Linked DNA regions of Homo sapiens: region 2 is linked to region 1. The links come from fine-mapping of genetic effects on gene expression. A gene starts in region 1. The other region holds a variant in brackets. All regions are shown on one strand. Distances are between the middles of the regions. Region 1 holds the start of AK2 (adenylate kinase 2). Region 2 overlaps AK2 (adenylate kinase 2).

Region 1 (10,029 bases):
TGGGGCAGTAGATAGCAGCAGAAAGAGCAGGAGCTTTGGAGTCATTCAGATGCAAGCTCTGTAAATTACTTGCTATGTAGCCTAGAGAACAAGCCATTCAAACTTCAGTTTCTCCAACTGTAAAAGGGGAAATAAGAGTGTGGGTCTCAGAGATGTTGCAAGTATCACTGCAATGACATAACTGATGCATCTGACCCATAAGACTGCCTAAGCGTGCCTGGCCTCGAAGAATTGGGCATAAGTTTGACACATGGAAGAAATGAGGAGGGGTTGGCAAAAAAACCAAGAAACATACCTTTGGTTTTGACCACACCGAAGGAGCATCCAACCCCAAAAGGGAGGCAAGGAAATAAAGTTATTTAAATAAAATAACAAACCCAGGTATTATAGATGTTTTAAAACATTACATTGATGCAAAAGCGAGTAGTTTTGAAATATTTAACTACTTTAGTTAAAAGTGAGGAGTTTTAAAAGGAAACATTATTTCAGTCATGCAACATAAAGCACATAAAATACTGAGTTACGCAGGTATAACAAAGTATAGCAGGAAGAAAACAAACATTACTGAGCAGGCACTAGGCACTAACCCCAGGTTAGGGATTTTACATGTAAGATTGCAAACATCTGCCAGTGGGAGCCAAGCAGGCAATGCAACTGTATGAAATGAGTCAAATGTAAGCAATGGGCAGTGAAGAGGACCGTGCAGGGGACAGGAAGACACACAGACCATCCAAAGCAGCAATGCCACACAACTGCAAGTGACTGCTGCCACACTGGAATGGAGGCATCACTGCCAGGTCTTCTGGTTTCTCAAGAGAAACTGGAGCTCTGGATTTTTAAGAGAAATTGCATAACCGAAAACGCTCTGTGGTCAACCTACTATTTTGAAAGCTGACAAAGAGAATAAATCAAGCATTTATCCTGACTTTTCTATACCAACCATATCACGGGGTAACGAAACAGTAGATGAGGGGAAGTTTCTCTTTATAGAAATATTTCAGCTAATAAATGACCAGGGAACAATATAATTAGAATACCACCATTTCACCATCCATAACGAATTACTGAACCTAGACACTGAACAGCATGACTATAAACACCAGAGACAAGGAAATACCATGTGCCTCCTCAGGGAGAGCACAGCACCCACCACCTGTGAAGTAGTTGGGCCAAAAAATTGAACCTAAATTGAATTAAGTATATACTAATTAAGTATAAACCACCAATTTACAGGAAATAGAGAGGGCAGAGGAAGATGTTAAGTACACCAGGGGAATACAACTGAAAATTCCCAGAGAGTGGTATAATACTCCCAGGAAAAATAATCCAATTTCTGGGGCTGGACATGATGGCTCACGGCTATAATCCCAACACTTTGGGAGGCCAAGGTGGGCGGATCATGAGGTCAGGAGATCGAGACCATCCTGGCTAACACAGTGAAACCCCGTCTCTACTAAAGATACAAAAAATTAGCCGGGTGTGGTGGCAGGCACCTGTAGTCCCAGCTACTCGGGAGACTGAGGCAGAATGGCGTGAATCCGGGAAGCAGAGCTTGCAGTGAGCCAAGATCACACCACTGCACTCCAGCCTGGGCAACAGAGCGAGACTCTGTCTCAAAAAAAAAAAAAAGAAAAGAAAAATAATCCAATTTCTTCGGCAAAACCCCAGGAAAAAAAGAGAAGGGGAACTTATAAATTAAAAGAAAGGATGGGCACAGTGGCACATGCCTGTAGTCCCAGCTACTTGGGTGGCTGAGGGAGGAGCCCGGTAGTTCAAGACCAGCCTGAGCAACATGGCAGGACCCCCATCTTTAAAACACTAGAAAAGTTAGCCAGGCATGGTGGCATGCACCTGTAATCCCAGCTATTCAGGAAGCTGAGGTGGGAGGACTGAGGCTGCCGTGAGCTATGATTGGGCTACTACACTCCAGCTTGGGCAACTGAGCAAGACTTTGTCTGTAAAAAAATAAATAAATAAAAGAAACTTAAAATTATCACATTGGTAACACAAAAGAAAATTTGAATAAAAATTGTTGATTTTTTAAAGGATATTATGCTTATGTTTTTAAAAATTATCTTTTAGCAATACATACTAATATTATTTACAAATGAAATGTTATGATGCCTGGGAGGTGCTTTATAATAATTTGTGAAGGGAGAATGGCTAGAGGAGCGAAGGCCACCAGTTAATGGTTGGGGCTGGGTAAGGGCTCATTATGCCATCCTGTCTTCTTTTGTGTATTCAAAATTCTTCATAATAAAAAGTTAAGGTGTATGAGATGTCTCTGCAGGCTAAATGTTATTGTAGGCTACCATTTGTAAAGTCTGATTTAAGATCTTTTTTTTTTGAGACAAAGTCTCACTCTGTTGCCCAGGCTGGGGCGCAATGGTGAGATCCCAGCTCACTACAAACTCTGCCTCCAAGGCTCAAGTGATCCTCCCACCTCAGCCTCCTGAATAGCTGGGACTACAGGCACACACCACCATGCCTGGCTAATTTTTGCATTTTTTTGTAGAGATGGGGTTTCGCCATGTTGCCCAGGCTTGAACTTTTTTTTAAACTCCACAAAAATACATACAATCACCAGTATTCCTATTGTTACAACTCTGGAAAGTGTACAGAGGTTAAATGACTTGTGTAAATCTTATCCTTTCAACTCCCAGCTCTAATCACATCTCCTCTATTTCTACAAAGCCTTCTCTGACCAACTCTCATCTTCATGCACCCTTATCAATCAACTCATTAGTATAATGTTCTTCTAAACTTCCTGAATAAATCATGTCTTACACTGAAACATCCAAGTTGAAGGAGGGGAAGGGAGATGTGTTACTAAGATAAAAGGGAGTCAAAATTTATTGAGTACCTACTATATAGCAGGCTGTCATCTAGGTTGTGGGTGCTTGATACACACACACACACACACACACACACACACACACACACATATATCATAATTTTCCAGTATCATTGTGAATGTTTAGTTGATGAGGGCAAGAACTTTATCAGTCTTGCCCAATGCTTTATATCCCCAATGTTAGGTGCTCATGAAATGCTGAATGAGCAAGGTAGGTATTATCCCCATTTTTCAGGTAAGAACACTGAGGCTCGGAAGTTACATAGCTAGCTAAATTATAAAACCCTTGTCCCAGTACTATACTAGTATAGGTTGTCCATTCCATAATTACTGAAATTATTAACTTCAATATGAGTTAAGAAAAAAATCTCAGGGCATAGTGGCTTGTGCCTATAATCCCTGCACTTTGGGAGGTCAAGGCAGGATGATCGCCTGTGTCCAGGAGTTCAATACCAGCCTGGGCAACATAGCAAGACCCTGTCTCTACAAAAAATTGTTTAAAAATTAGCTGGGCATGGTAGCATGTGCCTGTACTCCCAGCTACCTGGGAGGGTGAGGTGGGAGGATTGCTTGAGCTCACACCACTGCGCTCCAACCTGGGCAACAGAGTGAGACCCTGTCTCAAAAAAAAGAAAAAGAAAAAGAAAAACAATGAAGCATTTGAGCTACTGTTTATACTTGATCACTCACAGCAAAAGTCTGCAGAGTCTAAGATTAAACTTCCCTAAGCTGCAGATTACCCAATAAATGAGTGTGGCAGCAACAGGAAAGAGATGTCAACAACGCTGAGGATAAAGGATAAAGGGATCAGGTACAGGTAAGCTCCAAAGAAGAATCATCTCAGTCTGTGGAGAGAAAAGAAAGCTGTATTTTCTGACTTAGTGCCCAGGTCACAGGAATGAATGGAGTGTTCCAGAACTTCTTTCTTTATCACCCACATTAATCTGTGACATTCATCCACTTCCACTAACCCCATCAAGGGCCAAGTAATGTGCTAGGTGCCACAAGGGGTACCAAGAATGAGTAAGATGGTCTGTTTGCCAAGATTTTTAAAACTTGGCAAGTGCTAGGAAGAGAAAAGCGGGCACAGGGCAGTCCTCAGATTCCCTTTCATTTGGGAGCTCAGACTTCCCTCTTTGAAGCCTAACAACAGGCAAGAGCCAGAGGCTTAGGGCCCCAGGTGCAATGCCAGACCCCAAGCAAGAAGGGGACATCAATAATCCAACCTGCGGGCTTCCAAATCCGAAATGAGATCATCGATCCCAACCCTAATCTATGGCCCCATTATGTCCCAGATCTAGAAGGGGCCCAGATCCCAAGTGAGGCCCCTGTTGCCTGCTAGGGCAGATGGTAACTTCAGACTCTAACTCCATGGTTCCTGAGGTCTCAGGCTCATGAAACTCATTTCACTAATTTGGGAAAGCCACCTGACCTTTCTGGGCCTGTTTTTTAACCTGTTGATTGATAAAGTTAAAATTTCAAGTTCCCTATAAACAACAACAAAATAAAAAAAGGAAAAAATAAATAAAAACCAAAGGGAAGGAAGATACAAACAAACAAAAATAATAAAAACAAAATAAAAAAAAATTCAAGTTCCTTTTCATCTAAAATCATTTGCGTCATCCCAAGCTGCTTAGCCTTCAGTAGCCTCAGGTCCTAACTCCAAGCCAGGTCCCATGAGCACTCCCAACCCTTATTGTGGACACTACTCAAAGGTTGCGACTCATGGGTCTCCAGGCTATAAACCAGTTCTACACATTCACCCCCAACTTTCAAACAGGGAGAGCCTTAGGTTTCCTCCCATCTCAATTCAACTGGCTCACACAGCACATGTCACCTCTCACTCTGCCCCACGTGTTGGAGATGCTTCTCCTCCCCTCCCCCTAAGTCATAAATCATTATCAAAATCTCCCGACCTCCAGTGCCTGGAATGTAACCCTGATTCTGGACAATTCACCTCCAACTCGCAGGTAACCTGGGCCATAAAGCTAATTGCCTCCATTCAGCCTGTAATCTAGATGCCTCGGCCCAGGGCTCACTCTACCCCTCAAACCTTTCCAGTCTCTAGACCCTTAGTGGAATTAATCAGCCCTCACATTCCCTAACCCAACACTTCAACACTGAATCCCTCGGGCACTCCAATCCTAACTCAGACTGCCCCGACCTCCAATTTGGACCCTCTCCGAAATGCCCCACCAGAACCGAGACCCCGGCCAGCGTTCCCCGCAGGCCTTAGTCCCCGGCCCGCTCCGGGCAGGTCCAGGGCTTCTAGATCTCCGGCCGCCTTGACCTTGGAGTTCAGCAGGCTCCGCCGCCAAGCCCAGTCCTGCCGCTCACCTGGGTCCCTTTACCGGCCCCGGGAGGCCCCAGCAGCACGGCCCGGATGCCTTTAGGATACTCGGGTTCTGCCGCTGGCACGCTGGGAGCCATGTCCGCCGAAGTCTCTCACTGCCACCAGTTCGCACGCCTCACAGGTCCAGTGCTTCCCAGGTCAACGCACGCACGCCACGCACGTCCCACTCGCCGCTCACACTGGCCCATAGCCGCGTCCGTCAGCCCGTTCCGCCCGCCCCTGAGCACGACGGACTCTTCACCTTACCAACTGCACGGCGATACTGAGGAACTTTGCTTTTGATTGGACAGAATTGGTGCGGGATAAGGAAGGGGCGGGCCAGCATGTACTAAGGGTGGCGGGTGTGCGGAGTGGGCGGGAAAACGCGAAGGAGGACAGGAGGTCAGGCCGGAAGGTATACTTCGGCATTTGACAGTTGACGACACCAGCAACAACATTGAAATCCTATTAAATTGCGCGTGGGAGTTTAAATGGGTAAAATCACTCTTAGAAGACAAATTAGTAATATGTTTCAAATACCCTTTGGTCCAGCAATTCCACTTCCACGAATTCAATGGATAAAATCAAGGATATGAGTAAAGATTCGTGTAACAAAGTTGTTAATTGCAACACTTAGCCCAAAAGCCCGAGAAAAACCATAAAATAAAGGCAATACTCCAAATGTCCAACAATAAGAGATTGGTTAAATAAATTGCAACCAATTTGTATCCTGGAATACCCCTGTTGTATAAGATAATTTAATCATGCGGGAAAATGTTAGCAAAGCGAGATACAAAATTGCAGTTACAACAAAATCCGAATTTTGGCCGGACGCGGTGGCTCACGCCTGTAATCCCCACACTTTGGGAGACCATGGCGAGCGGATTACCTGAGGTCAGAAGTTCGAGACCAGCCTGACCAACATGATGAAACCCCATCTCTACTGAAAATACAAAATTAGCTGGGAGTGGTGGCATATGCCTGTAATCCCAGCTACTTGGGAGGCTGAGGCAGGAGAACTGCTTGAACCCAGGAGGCGGAGGTTACAGTGAGCCAAGATTGAGCCATTACACTCCAGCCTGGGCAACAAGAGTGAAACTCCGTCCCACTCCCCCCCCAAAAAATCCCGATTTTGTTTATTACAAGTGTAGACCGCTGTGTAGTGTGATTAGAGGAGCACCTCTCCTTTGTATATTTTAATAGATTTTTTAAAGTTCTATGGTAAATTCTTAATAAGTTTAAAAACTTAAGTTTAAAACAAGTTTTACCTTTATATTAAGAAAAACGTTAACCTTTTAAAGTCAGGAAAAGATAGTTTTTCTCAAAAGAGATGACCCTCTTGGATAGGGAAATAATTTCTACAGCTTTTTGGTGTGTGAAAGTTTCATCCAGCTCCAAGGGCCTCTTTGGACCTTTAGTTAAGAGTGTGTAATGAAACGATTATGTTTCCCCACAGGCTCCTAACAACTCATTTTCTACATCTTGATGATGAATTTGCTATCCCTTCAGCTGTGGTCTCTTCTTTTTTTTTTTTTTTTTGAGACGTGGTCTCGCTCTGTTGCCCAGGCTGGAGTGCAGTGGCGCGATCTCGGCTCACTGCAAGCTCCACCTCCTGGGTTCACGCCATTCTCCTGCCTCAGCCTCCTGCGTAGCTGGGACTATAGGTGCCCACCACCACGCCTGGCTAATTTTTTTTATACTTTTAGTAGACACGGGATTTCACCGTGTTAGTCAGGATGGTCTTGATCTCCTGACCTCGTGATCCGCGCGCCTGGGCCTCCCAAAGTGCTGGGATTACAGGCGTGAGCCACTGTGCCCAGCCCAGCTGTGGTCTCTTCCTTACCACACAGAAGTCAACATTCATTTCTCATCGCCACGCTGGACTTTTACAGTGTACCTGCTTAATCTTGTTGGATACTCCCAATGACATTGAAGGAAGAAAGGATTGTTATGTCTATTATTCAGAATGGAAGCTGAGGCCTGAAGATACGTAGTGACCAAAGTCACACAGTAGCAGACTCACAATTAAGACTGAGGATGAGCCAGGTCCAGTGACTCACGCCTGTAATCCCAGCACTTTGAGAGCCTGAGGGGGGGGCAGATCACCTGAGGTCAGGAGTTCGAGACCAGCCTGGCCAACATGGCGAAACCCCGTCTCTACTAAAATTACAAAAAAATTAGCCCAGTGTGGTGGCGCATGCCTGTAATCCCAGCTATTAGGGAGGCTGAGGCAGGAGTATCGCTTGAACCCGGGAGGTGGAGGTTGCAGTGAGCTGAGATGGCACCACTACACTCCAGGCTGGGTGACAGAGCAAGACTCTGAAAACAAAAACAAAAACAACTGAGGATGACAAGCAGGTGCCCTAGAGATTACAGGGCTTATGGGCAGAGGGATGGGAAAACAAGCTGCAGGAAGCCTCTCTGTGGCCAAAATTCACTTCAGTCCAATAAGACCAGAGTTTATTGAAATTTTCTATGCACAGGGACCAGGCAAGGGGAGTAGGAGCAGCCTTCCCTTTCTACCATCAATCCCTATAGTGATTGTGACAAGACTTAGGGCTCCCAGGAGGGAAAGTAAGGAAGACTATCCATAAAGACACAAAGTGTAAGATTTATTCAATACACTTTGAAGTGTAATGAATCACAAGTTAAGTCTTTTTTTTTTCTTTTTTGAGAAGGAGCCGCACTCTGTCACCCAGGCTGGAGTGCAGTGGTGCAATCTCTGCTCACTGCAACCTCCGCCTCCTGGGTTCAAGAGATTCTCCTGCCTCAGCCTCGTGAATAGCTGGGATTACAGGCGCCCCTACCACCCCCGGCTAACTTTTGTATTTTCAGTAGAGATGGGGTTTCACCATGTTGGCCAGGCTGGTCTCAAATTCCTGACCTCCGGTGATCCGCCTGTCTCGGGCCTCCCAAAGTGCTGGGATTACAGGAGTGAGCCACCGTGTCCGGCCAGTTCCTTTTAAAATTTATTTTCTCTTCTCCTTTCTTCCTGCTCCCACTTCTGATTTAATCTTTGAATTTCTTTGAATTTCTAAAGAAGAAATTTTACCAACTTCTTCACCAGACACTCCCTTCAAGGCAAGTTCATCTAATTCTTGGAAAGTTAACAGAGCAAAGCATGCCCGCTAGGGAACTTTCACCTTGGAACTTCTACCCTCTGGGGGATTGCTTCGAACTCACACCTACCAAGAGGGAATGTTGAAAGCGTGTCCACTTGGCCACTTTTATAACTTACTTCTGCCCAGGAAGGCACTAAGTCAACTGCCCAGCAGTTAAGCCACCAGAGCTAACGGAGACGCCCTCCCCCTGCTTACTTCCTCCCACCACCTTATAAAAGGCCCGCTTTCTGCTCCAAAAGGGAAGTGGCACATTTAAGGCAGGATGCTTCGTGCCATTTCCACAAGCTAGCTTCAAAATAAATTCATTTTTTCGTCCCAGACCTTGCTCTTTTTAACTGGACTCTGAATGTTGTGAGCAACTAACCTGCTTTTCAGTTACAAAATGATGGTAGCCTCTGAAGTCAGAAAAGGCAAGGAAATGGGTTCTCCCCTAGAGTCTCCAAAGGAACATGACCCTGAAGATATTTTGATTTTAGCCCCATACGACCTATTTTGAACTCCTGACCTCCAAAACTTTAAGGTAATAAATTTCCGTTCATATAGACCACCAAGTTTGTGGTAATTGGAAACTAGCAGCCATAGGAAACTAGTACATATTCTTTGGATACAAGCAATAGAAACAGACTCTAGCTACATCAAGCAAAAACAAAATTCGCTGAGAGGATTCAGTTGTACAACCACAGGCCTTGGAAGTGATAGGAGCCAGGGCTGCGTTGGGTAATCTAGATATAAGGAATAAGTAGGCCAGGTGTGGTGGCTCACGCCTATAACACTTTGGGAGGCCAAGGCGGGCGGATCACCTGAAGTCAGGAGTTCGAGATGAGCCTGGCCAACATGGCAAAACCCCATCTCTACTAAAAATAGAAAACTTAGCTGGGCATGGTGGCGCATGCCTGTAATCCCAGCTACTTGGGAGGCTGAGGCAGGAGAATTGCTTGAACCAGGACCTGGGAGGCAGAGGTTGCAGTGAGACAAGATTGCGCCACTGCACTCCAGCCTGGGCTACAGAGCGAGACTCCGTATCAAAAAAAAAGAAAGAAAGAAAGAAAGAAAATTCCACACTAACAGGTGGTGTGGTGGCTCTCACCTGTAATCCCAGCGCTTTGGGAGGCTGAGGTGGGAGAATTGCCTGAGGCCAGGAGTTTGAGACCAGCCTGGACTTGGTCTCTACTAATAATAAAATTAGCCAGGCATGATGGTGCACTCCAGTAGTCCCAGCTACTTGGGAGGTTGAGGTGGAAAGATTGCTTGAGTCCAGGAATTCAAGGCTGCAGCCAGGTATGATTGTGCCACTGTGGTTGAGGTGGAAGGATTGCATGAGCCCAGGAGTTCAAGGCTACAGCCAGGTATGATGGTGTCACTGCACTGCAGCCTGAGTGACAGAGCAACCTTGTCTCTGAAAAAAAAAAAAAGAAAAAAGACAAAAATCCACACCTGACCTCACGTGACAGGTTGCAGTCAAAACACAGACATACAACACAGTTTTTTCAGCATCTCCAGGTATTATTTTGATGATGCTACTATGCTGCTTACTTACCCTGAACACATTACTTTTTCACTGTATTAATGGTCTTTTTTTTTAACTGATAAATGTGAATAAGTGTAAGAAAAATGATACAGCATATAAATTCAGAGTCATGAATGATGGTGACGCCGAACAACCACAGATTTTCCAGAGGGGTGTCTAAGTGACACTTTTGTTTTCCCATGATTCAGTATAC
Region 2 (10,029 bases), 24 kb before region 1:
AGGTCTTACCTGTGGCAGGTCCTTCACTGTAACAGAGCAAACCTACTTGAGTTTCTCCTTTTGTTTGGATCCATGGCTCATAGCCTTTTCTGTATCATGAGTGCCTTTGAGATCATTTCATCTCTCCCCAGCAAAGTGTCAAAGCAATTGGCACAGTGTTAAGAGGCTGGGGTGTGGAGCCAGACTTGGACTCAGGCTCTGGTTCTGCCATTATCAGATGTCTGAATCTCAAAGTCTACAGACATACCATAGAGATAATAGCAATACTTACCTCCACAGGGTTATCGAGGAGAATAAATGAGATAATGCATGCAGAACCTCTCACACAGCTAAGAATTTAATATGTTAGACTATTATTAATTATGAAAACACATAAAGAATTCTGCATATAATTTCAGAGGTCTATGATTTCTAGGGGATCCTTAGCCTGGTTCCGGATGGTCAGTAAGACAACTTTCTTCAATGCCTACATTTTCCCTCTGAATTCCATCTGTGTTTACTAAGCATCTGCTGTGTCCTGGGCAGTCCAACCCACATGAGTATCTTGGTCACTAGTGTCATCAGCACCTTTGAGGGGTAGGGATCATTCCTATTCTACTGATGAGGTGAGATAACTTGTCCAAGGTCGCATGGTGAAGTCGCTGTTGAAATCTGTCTTCTGACTCGTTGCTCTGTCTTCATCTGAGGAAAGACTTGTGAGGCTTCTGAGGAGGCTGCTCTCCATCCTGCTGTGTTCTGTCAGTGACACTTTGTGCACACAGGAGATCCTAAGACACATACCCTAGGCCCTCAGAGCCGGCAGTGACTTCTTCAAAATCAGTTCCGGCAGCGCTGAGTGTCCATGGAAAAGAGCTCTTATTCAGAGCAGCCCTTCCTGTGTGCAGAGCTACGCAAGTAATTAAATCACTTCAGCAACAAGATCAAGGGGACGGATAAGTGTTAGAGACTGTGTTTCAGTCCTGACTGCCTCTTATGCATGACCTCAGGAATGCCACTTCACCTCTCTGAGTCTGGTTTCCTCACCTATAAAAGTGAAGGACAGTTCTGACTCCACAGGGTGCTGTGTGAGGGTTACGTGAAGTCGAGGGTTACATGAAGCCTTTGCATAATACCTGGCACAACGTCAGTCTTCCGGGAGTGGTAGGACTAGTCTGCATTCTTGGTTTGCAGATTAGATGAGGAAACCCAGGCCCAAAGAAGCAAACAAACAATAGCTCACCCAGTCTTCTCTGTTTATTCTTCTCAACTACACCATGCTGCTTTGCAGGTTGGTTTGACAAACATTTCCCCACAATTAGATGCATGATGACCAAGGGAGGAAAGAAAATTTTCACAGGGTATTTAAAAAGCTCAGGGAACAAACAGATCAGTGCAAATCAGTAAGGCTAACACCTGAAAATGACTCTGCACAGGTGAGGAAGTGGAGCAGAAGAGGGAGGGGCTGGTTCAGGGAACAGGATTTAATATGTCAGTGAAGACCCTGCCTCTCTCTGTAACAAGATGCCTAAAGAAGAATAGTGGTGCTTCCAGCCCAGCTCCCTCTTGTTTTGGGAACAACAGTCATTTCTCAGAAACCTCACTTGCAAAGGCAGCCCTTCCAAAAACATGAGAGCTTTAGTTTGGAGAAATTATTTAAGCTCACTTTTGCTGGAGAGGAAATGAATTTAAACTAGGACACACAGAGAAGCAACAAAGAGTGTTAAAGAAGCAACTGAAAAGGTAGTCAAAGATCTGGCTTAAGGATTAGAAGCACTGGCTTTCTAGACTATGGACAAGTGTCCATTCAACAGTTATCCAGCCTGGCAGGAAGCAGATATCTTTCTGTGTATATCTGGATCCAACTAACATTTATCCAATGTCTGTTGCATGCCAGGTACTGAGCAAAAACCTTCTTCCTATAAATTTCATTTAATGCCATTAAGGCCAAGAAGGTGGCATAACCAACTTCCTTTTTCAGCTGAGGAAACAGGAGCACAGTGAATAACTAACTGGCTGGGATTTGTCCTAGGTCCCCTGAACTCCAAGCACAGTGCTATCTCCACTAGACCAAGCTGCCTTGTCTCTGGGCTCAAGAGAAGCCTGCATAGGAGCTGAAGGTCAAGAGGTTGCAGGCTTATCTCATATGCACATACTTGGACCTCCCTACCACACAGCTGCCAGCGACAAGAAAGGGCTTCTTTTCCTTCCAGCCAGGTCCAGAATTCAATGTCATTTTTCTAGCTTAGATTATCTAAAAAAAATGCCACAACAGGGGATACAAATTTTAACATATTTTATTGATTTAGGGGCCAAACAAGGCAGCATTTGGTCAGTTAAGAAAGGCACCTCATTGAAAATAATACATCACAGTGCTGTTGAGTGATCCCAGTCACAGGATTTGAGAATGGAAAGGACAATCTTTGGATGACATAGCTTAGGACACTTGCTCATTTATTTAAAAGAGTCCCTTCACACAGTGCAGATAAAAGAAGGCAAGAGCATAGGATTGTGGCATGTGCTGGGTAGCTGTGAGAGGTTACTCATGAAAGTAGGTAGCCTAGTAAATTAGTGGTAAGTCAGGGGAAGGGAATCAGCCTCCCTTTCCATTTCATTCCCTTCCCCCTCCCCTTGATTCCAGTTTGCTTGATTTGTTGAGCCACCATCCCTATGAATACACCTTACATCTCTTTCAAATGTGGAGATGGTTTTTTGATCTTACAGTGTGTGGAACCGGAGTCAGTAATCAAAGCTCCCTGTTCCAAGCTATAGACAGACAGGACAACAATTTGATTTCCTGTACTCTTGGTCTGGAACCCATGGGGTTCTGAGATAAAAGCTGAGGTCTTAGAGCACTGGCTTTAAAAAATATTTTCACCAGTCCAGAGTAAATGAAAACCCGATTCCTTAGAAATAATATTGTGTCTATTTCTACCCCCACCCTCCAAGCATGGTGTTTTTTAAAAAATTAATTTTTCCCTTACACTTTAAAAACTCTCACCTATGTATAAAAGAAACTGCCACACTACAATAACACTGCTGTTGTTCCAAGTATTCCTCTGAGCCCCTCACCAGCCCTCCCTCACCATCCTCACCCTGACCACCCTTCCCCTCTGCCCAGCACCTAAGAGCAGGGATCACGCCGCGGGGTGATGAGCAGTGTTGCAGTCTCGCCTGGCCTTCTGATACTAGGCTGAAATAGAGAGGAAACAAGAGAGAACAAAATGGGTTTTTAAAAACCAAGTACATATCAGAGGAGGCTGGCATGTAAGCCCCAGCAACCAAATGCATTAAACACTGGACATTTCTGTGACAGGTAAAAGCAGAACCTGCTGAGGCTGAGGAACTCTGGAATTAAATGAAGCAAAAACAGAATCCTAACCATACTGAGAAGGGTATATGCATTCCCTATGAATCTTCCAGTTCTTATGGGCAGCCCAAATATTACTTGTACATGTTGTATGCACACGTGAATCTATGTGGACGGATGACAAATATTTGGGCAAGGATCATGCACATAAAATTAGCAAACATTCAAGAACCTCAACTTTGAGGCCAAGTGCTTACAATTGTCCCTAGTTAAAGGGGAGCTGATTCTAAGATTCATGATGCCACTGTCACCCAGAGAAGGATCCCAGACCAGGCACACATAGCTGACAGTTTTTGTTTCACTCCTCTTCCTTGCCCATTCCCAGAAGTCATGTGCTTCCCAGAAACACACAAAGCCAGACTGAGTTTCCATTAAGAGTGGGTGGAGTTGGTTTAGAGCCAGGAAAACAAGGCAGGACAGAGGCAGCAGACACTCACTTGGACCAGGCAAAGAGGGAAGCAAGGTGGCCAGGTACTCATGCCCAGTTGCCATGTGGACAGCAGATAAGACCTCTGGTAGTCTCACAGATGGCAGGAGAGCTCAGGTCAGGAGGCTGGGCACTTTAGAGTCCACTGAATCGAGTCAGCAGCAGATTATGCTGAGGCTGGCGATATTATTTACTGGATCTGCCACTGACTTTCTAATGGTTTTTCCAGAGGCTGCCGTTTTTGTGGTCCTTCATAGCAGTCTGTTACTTCATCTGTTTGCCACAAATCAAACCAGAGACCAAAAGACAGCAGGGACCTTAGAAAATGCTCAATAGTTGGGAAGCTAAGGTTATGAATAAAAGCTGGTAACTGTCACAGGTGGTCTTATTTCTGGGTGATCTTTTCTTGGGGAAGTCCATGGCTATAGCCATCATAAAATTAGGGGTGAAGGGTTGGATCTAGAAAGGAGAGGGTTTGGGCTTAAAAAGAACATATCTGATTTCAGTTTTATGTCCTGGAGAGAGACTGGGTTTGAATAAATACTGATCAAAATGAATCCAAGAATAGATCACACACTGTTTTGTTCACACTTGGAAACACAGGCAAACATTAAAAATAAAAGCAAATAAACCTACCCTGGTCTCTTTTTGGGGAAGTAGATTTGACTGCTCTCAGATGATCAGCCTGGATGTTCAGAAGACAATCTGAATTCAAAAGGACCTTTCACCTGGTTTAATTCTCTGGCAACAATTCAGTTTTCAAACCCAATTCCCAAATAATTGCTATTTTCAGCATCATGATGCAGATCACAAAAATATTCCAATTTGGCCTGGCTCTTTTTATGACGATATCCTCTCCCAGTAATTTCTGTAACCTGCAAAGTAAGTGCCTTTTTCCTTCCACCTAGGGGGAAAAAATTAATGATCCCTGTTCACACACTGACTCACGTGGGTTTTCATCATGGGTTAGAAAACAAAATGGAATTCTCTGTCCATAATGTGCCATCAGGAACTGTGACCCTGCCTGACTTCACATGATCCTGGACTTCTAATCAGCTGCTGGAAATGGAAGAAATACTATGAGGTTCTGGAATTGCGGTCCCTGGAAGATTACCTGGGTTAGTTCATTTTGGTCAAAAAATAAAATCAAAAGTATGGTTAAAGAAGTAAACAGCTGGGCTGGGTGTAGTGGCTCACGTCTGTGATCCTGGCACTTCAGGAGGCCAAGGTGGGTGGATTGCTTAAGCCTAGGAGTTCAAGACCAGCCTGGGCAACTTGGCAAAATCCTGTCTCTACAAAAAATACAAATATCAGCCAGGTGTTGTGGCATGCACCTGTAGTCCCAGCTGCTCAGGAGGCTGAGGTGGGATAATTGCTTGAGCCCCAGGAGGCAGAGGTTGCCGTGAGCCAAGATCACGCCACTGCACTCCAGCCAGGGTGGCAGAGCGAAACCTTGTCTCAAAACAACAACAAAAAAGAAGTAAACAGCTGGTAAAGCAACCTAGCCTAAAACTTACAAAGTAG[C/G]AGAGTGAACACATATGTGCATGCACACACACACACACACAACACACATACACACAGATGAGAGTAGCACACACGCCAAAGATACATCAAGCAAGTGCTTTTTTAATCAATACATCAAATGATATTTTTGCTAGCCTGAGGAAGCTTCTCTTTGCCTGTCCTATCATTCCCACCCATTGCCTCACAGGGATGGAAAGAAATTCCTTCTTGGACCCAACATTAGATAAACATAACCAAGTCTTTACATGTGGCTTTGGAGAAGGCTGCTAGGATGCTTGCGAACACGACATCGGGGGTCTGGGATGCATCGATGGCGGAGTGGATCCCCCGTTTCCTGTAGTACTCTATGAGTGGGGTGGTTTGAGTGTGGTAGGCTTGCAGGCGGATTTTCAAGGCCTTTTCATTATCATCTGATCGACGGATCAAGGGTTCCCCGGTGATCTGAGAACAGGAAGACAGCAATGAAAGGCTGGGACTGTTAGCAAGGTTTTCTTATTCCATGCCAGATGCAGATTTGAGATGGGACCATTCTGCCCAGGATGCTGTCTGTTCCCAAAGCCCATCAGAGACAAAGACAGGCAATCCAGACCCTCTCCAGTGAAGAACTTTGCTACTCCCAGGAGCAGAGCAGCTGGTGAACAGAAGTCAGAGAGTTTGTCAGAAACACCAACTGTGAGGAAAGGGGCTCATGAGGGGAAGATAGGCAATGACTTTCTCATCTTTGTGCTCAGGCGATTCAGCTTCCAAGATAAACACTTCTAGGGTCAAAAGTAAGGAAGTCAAAAAGGCCCCTAAGACCAGAATACATCAAAATCAAAGATACATTAGCAATTGTAATCTTAGTTGCTTAAATATTTAGTGTATTTACTAGAGTGTCACCCATCAACATTCTAAAAGTGGCAAGTAAAATAAGAACTTTCAATGGTAGAATTAGCAACTTTGCAAAATGTGACTAAGTTGCCATAACGGCTCTGGAACCTGTATTTATAGAACCTGAATGACCTGATGAACTTGTTTCATAGGACAAAGGTAAACCCAGGAAATTCTTACTGTTGCCTGCATGCTTTAAAACAAACCATATAGACTCTTTATGGCAAATGGTGCAGTGACCATGTATGAAACCCCAGGACACAGTACAGCAGCAATAACTATAAAAAGAATATTTTTCTGGAGGACTGGTCATCAAACTTCTCTTCAGTGCCACACTCTTCCCACTCTCCAATTGTAGGCTTTTAAGAAAGCTTCTCCTGATTAGCTGATCACTTAGGTGGCCATGATGCCAGAAAAGGGGCTGCTCTTGACAGAAGACAGGTACAATCTGGGCACTGCAAAAAGCTAGCACCACTGGAAGCAACCTTGAGGCCAAGCAATAAACCACCTGAGGAGACACTGAATAGATCTGACACAGGCCATGTGATTTACTTGATAGTGTTATTTTTCATGACTAAGTTAGTAATATTGGTAGAAATAAAAGGAAGATGGAAAGAATAAAGGAAAAAGAAAAACAGTGAAGAAAGGGGAAGGAAAGAAAAGGAAATTTTTTGTCCTGAGTTTACATACGTCATCTTTCATGGGCTCTTTTGGAGGGTTGAACTCCTCGTGGTAGGAACGGCCACTCTTGGGGTGAATCAGCCTGAAAGACAGCAAATGAATATGAGTTAGGTTAACTGACAGTACGCGCCTGCACTCCACTCTAGGGGGCTCCAGAATGACAAGCAGAGATAGGGACGCTGGATGCAAGGACCCAGCACCCAGCAGAAAATCCAGCTAAATAACTGGGCTTCCAGGAGAGCTTATGCCAGCGGCAGAGTATATTTTCTATTTTGACCAAACATTATTATGAGTATCTGGCTGAAGAGCAAACTGCTGGCATAACTACCTAATTCAGGACTTGAGAGAAGGAACTCTGGTGCTGGTCTCACACAGCCATCCATTCTGTTCACCCATTTACTTAACAAACATTAATAAGTATTCCATTCAAGCCTTAAGCTGAATTCAGAAGCTACAAAGCAATGAGTAATGATCCCTGCTCACAAGTAGTGCTTAGTGGGAGAGACAAATGTGGAAATAAATAACAAACGTGATAATCCTTTAACAGAGATTTGTACAAAGTGCTATGGGGGACAGAGGACAAAGAAATGAACTCTATTTTCTAACCTAGTTTGGTTACAAAACCAGGAAGGTACTAACAGGAAAAATAATTCCCATGGATGCAAACACTGCCAGATAATGGAACACATCTTTTCAATCACACAGATAAAAGATAGCCTAACCCTTATGGAGCAATATTCAAGTAATCGGGAAAAATGACTTATTAAACAAGTCATGGAATATAGAGCTCAAGAACAGGCATTTATTTGGCACTGAATGTATAGTGGGCAGCTGCATCTGTGCTGAGTCCCTACAGACAACAAGCCCATGTTCCTGACTGGGAATGGCCACACCACAGGAGCCTAGAAACCTAAGGAAAGGAGGCAGGCCAAGCTCTGCTCAGCAGCCAGGCCTTGCTTCACTTCTGTGGTTTCTCAATTCTCTGCCAACCAAGTGTTTGTTTGCTTATTTAACTAATGGTTGCTTTTCTCATGAAGGTCTATTAGACTAGAGCTCCCTAATATTTTTCACCATTTGGCAGGCATAGCAATATTTGGGCCGGGCCCAGCAGCTTATGCCTGTGATCCCAACACTTTGGGAGGCTGAGGGGGGCAGATCACCTGAGGTCAGGAGTTCGAGACCAGCCTGACCAACGTGGCGAAACCCCGTTTCTACTAAAAATATGAAAAATTTAGCTGGGTGGCAGGCACCTGTAATCCCAGCTACTTGGGAGGCTGAGGCAGGAGGATCGCTTGAACCTGGGGGTGGAGGTTGCAGTGAACCGAGATCATACCACTGCACTCCAGCCTGAGTGACAGAGCAAGACTGTCTCAAAAAAATAAAATAAATAAAAATTCTATTCAATTCTATTTAGACTATTGAAGTAGCACCTCTGTAAAATGTGCTACTTTCTTTTTTGTTAATCACAGCATATTTTGGGGGGACAAGATGGTCCATTTGGCATAAAGTGGCACTGGGTTATGGGCAGGAGGGAGGTGACAGTAGAGAAAATAAGCTATAGAGTCATCCCTTGGTATCCATGGGGGGATTGGTTCCAGGAGCCCCCTCTGTGGATACCAAAATCCATAGATGCTCAAGTCCCTGATATAAAATGGTACAGCATTTCCATATAACCTATGCATATCCTCCTGTGTACTTTTATTTTTATTTTATTTTTGAGACAGAGTCTCCCTCTGTCACCCAGGTTGGAATACAGTGGCGCGGTCTCTGCTCACTGCAAGCTCCGCCTCCTGGGTTCACGCCATTCTCCTGCCTCAGCCTCCCAAGTAGCTGGGACTACAGGCGCCCACCACCAAGCCTGGCTAATTTTTTGTATATTTAGTAGAAACGGGGTTTCACCGTGTTAGCCAGGATGGTCTCGATCTCCTGACCTCGTGATCCACCTGCCTCAGCCTTCCGAAGTGCTGGGATTACAGGTGTGAGCCACTGCGCCTGGTCTATTTATTTTATTTTTTGAGACATGGTCTTGCTCTGTTGTCCAGGCTGGAGTGCAATGGCAATGACCATAGTTCACTGTAACCACAAACTACTGGGCTCAAGTGACCCTCCCGCCTCAGTCTCTGGAGTAGCTGACTACAAGCATGCGCCACCATGCCTGGCTAATTCTTTTATTTTATTTAATTAATTTATTTTATTTTATTATTATTTTTTGAGACAGAGTCTCATTCTGTTGCCCAGGCTGGAGTGCAGTGTCATGGTCTCGGCTCACTGCAACCTCTGCCTCCCAGGTTCAAGCAATTCTCCTGCCTCAGCCTCCTGAGTAGCTGGGATTACAGATGCCTGCCACCACGCCCGGCTAATTTTTTGTATTTTTAGTAGAGACGGGGTTTCACCATGTTGGCCAGGCTGGTCTCGAACTCCTGACCTCGTGATCCACCCACCTCGGCCTCCCAAAGTGTTAGGATTACAGGTGTGAGCCACCGCGCCCGGTCTAGTTTTTTAATTTTTTGTAGAGATGAGGTCTCACTATGTTGCCCAGGCTGGTTGTCTTGCATACTTTAAATCACCTCTAGATTATGTATACCTAATACAATGTAAATGCCATGTAAAGAATTGATATACTGAATTTTAAAATTTGTATTATTTTTTCTTTTCTTCAGCTTTCCTGGGTTATATTTATTGGTGGTTTTGTTCTGAATATTTTTAATCCACAAATGCTTGAATCCGTAGATGAGGGAACCATGGATATGGAAGGCCAACTGGACAGAGGAGTAAAGGTTCCTGTGACTGCAGTCATGTACTGTGAGGTTGCACCTTCCATTATTTGAGTGCCTGGAAGGATTCCTCTGATGCATTCATTCAGAAATGGCATCCACTGGGAGACCCAGGGAAAGGAGAGAGCAGGCTGCTGGGCTCAGCTGCAGCAACTTTGGGAGGGGCTAGGGGCATGAGATACGGACCAGGATATTTTTTTACCTTCTAGAGAGCACAGGGCACATAGCAGCCAGGCTGCAACAAATATGACTCCCACACACTGCTCTTTTGCCATTCACAAATACCACTTTTTAAAACAATACAAGGCTCATTCCACAGAAGGTAAATGAAAGAAACCCCACTCTCCAAGTTCTCAAAATGGGATTGCTCTCAAGTACCAACCAAAATAGCTCCATGAGCCACTGAG

The links.
Region 2: its variant is fine-mapped to the expression of AK2 in whole blood (TOPMed, PIP above 0.99). The same link has a PIP of 0.9 or more in blood mononuclear cells.

Annotation. Positions count from the first base shown.
Region 1 is chr1:33,031,545-33,041,573 of GRCh38, forward strand. AK2 (adenylate kinase 2) reads right to left here and starts at 5,339. Exons shown (of 6, transcript NM_001625.4): 1 at 5,192-5,339. The coding sequence starts at 5,284. RefSeq lists an enhancer at 5,158-5,317.
Region 2 is chr1:33,007,665-33,017,693 of GRCh38, forward strand. It overlaps AK2 (adenylate kinase 2), which reads right to left. Exons shown (of 6, transcript NM_001625.4): 5 at 6,858-6,930; 6 at 322-5,738. The coding sequence ends at 5,517. Among named protein-coding and RNA genes, the nearest start is that of AK2, 24 kb to the right of the region's middle. The variant C/G (reference allele first, on the strand shown) is at 5,298.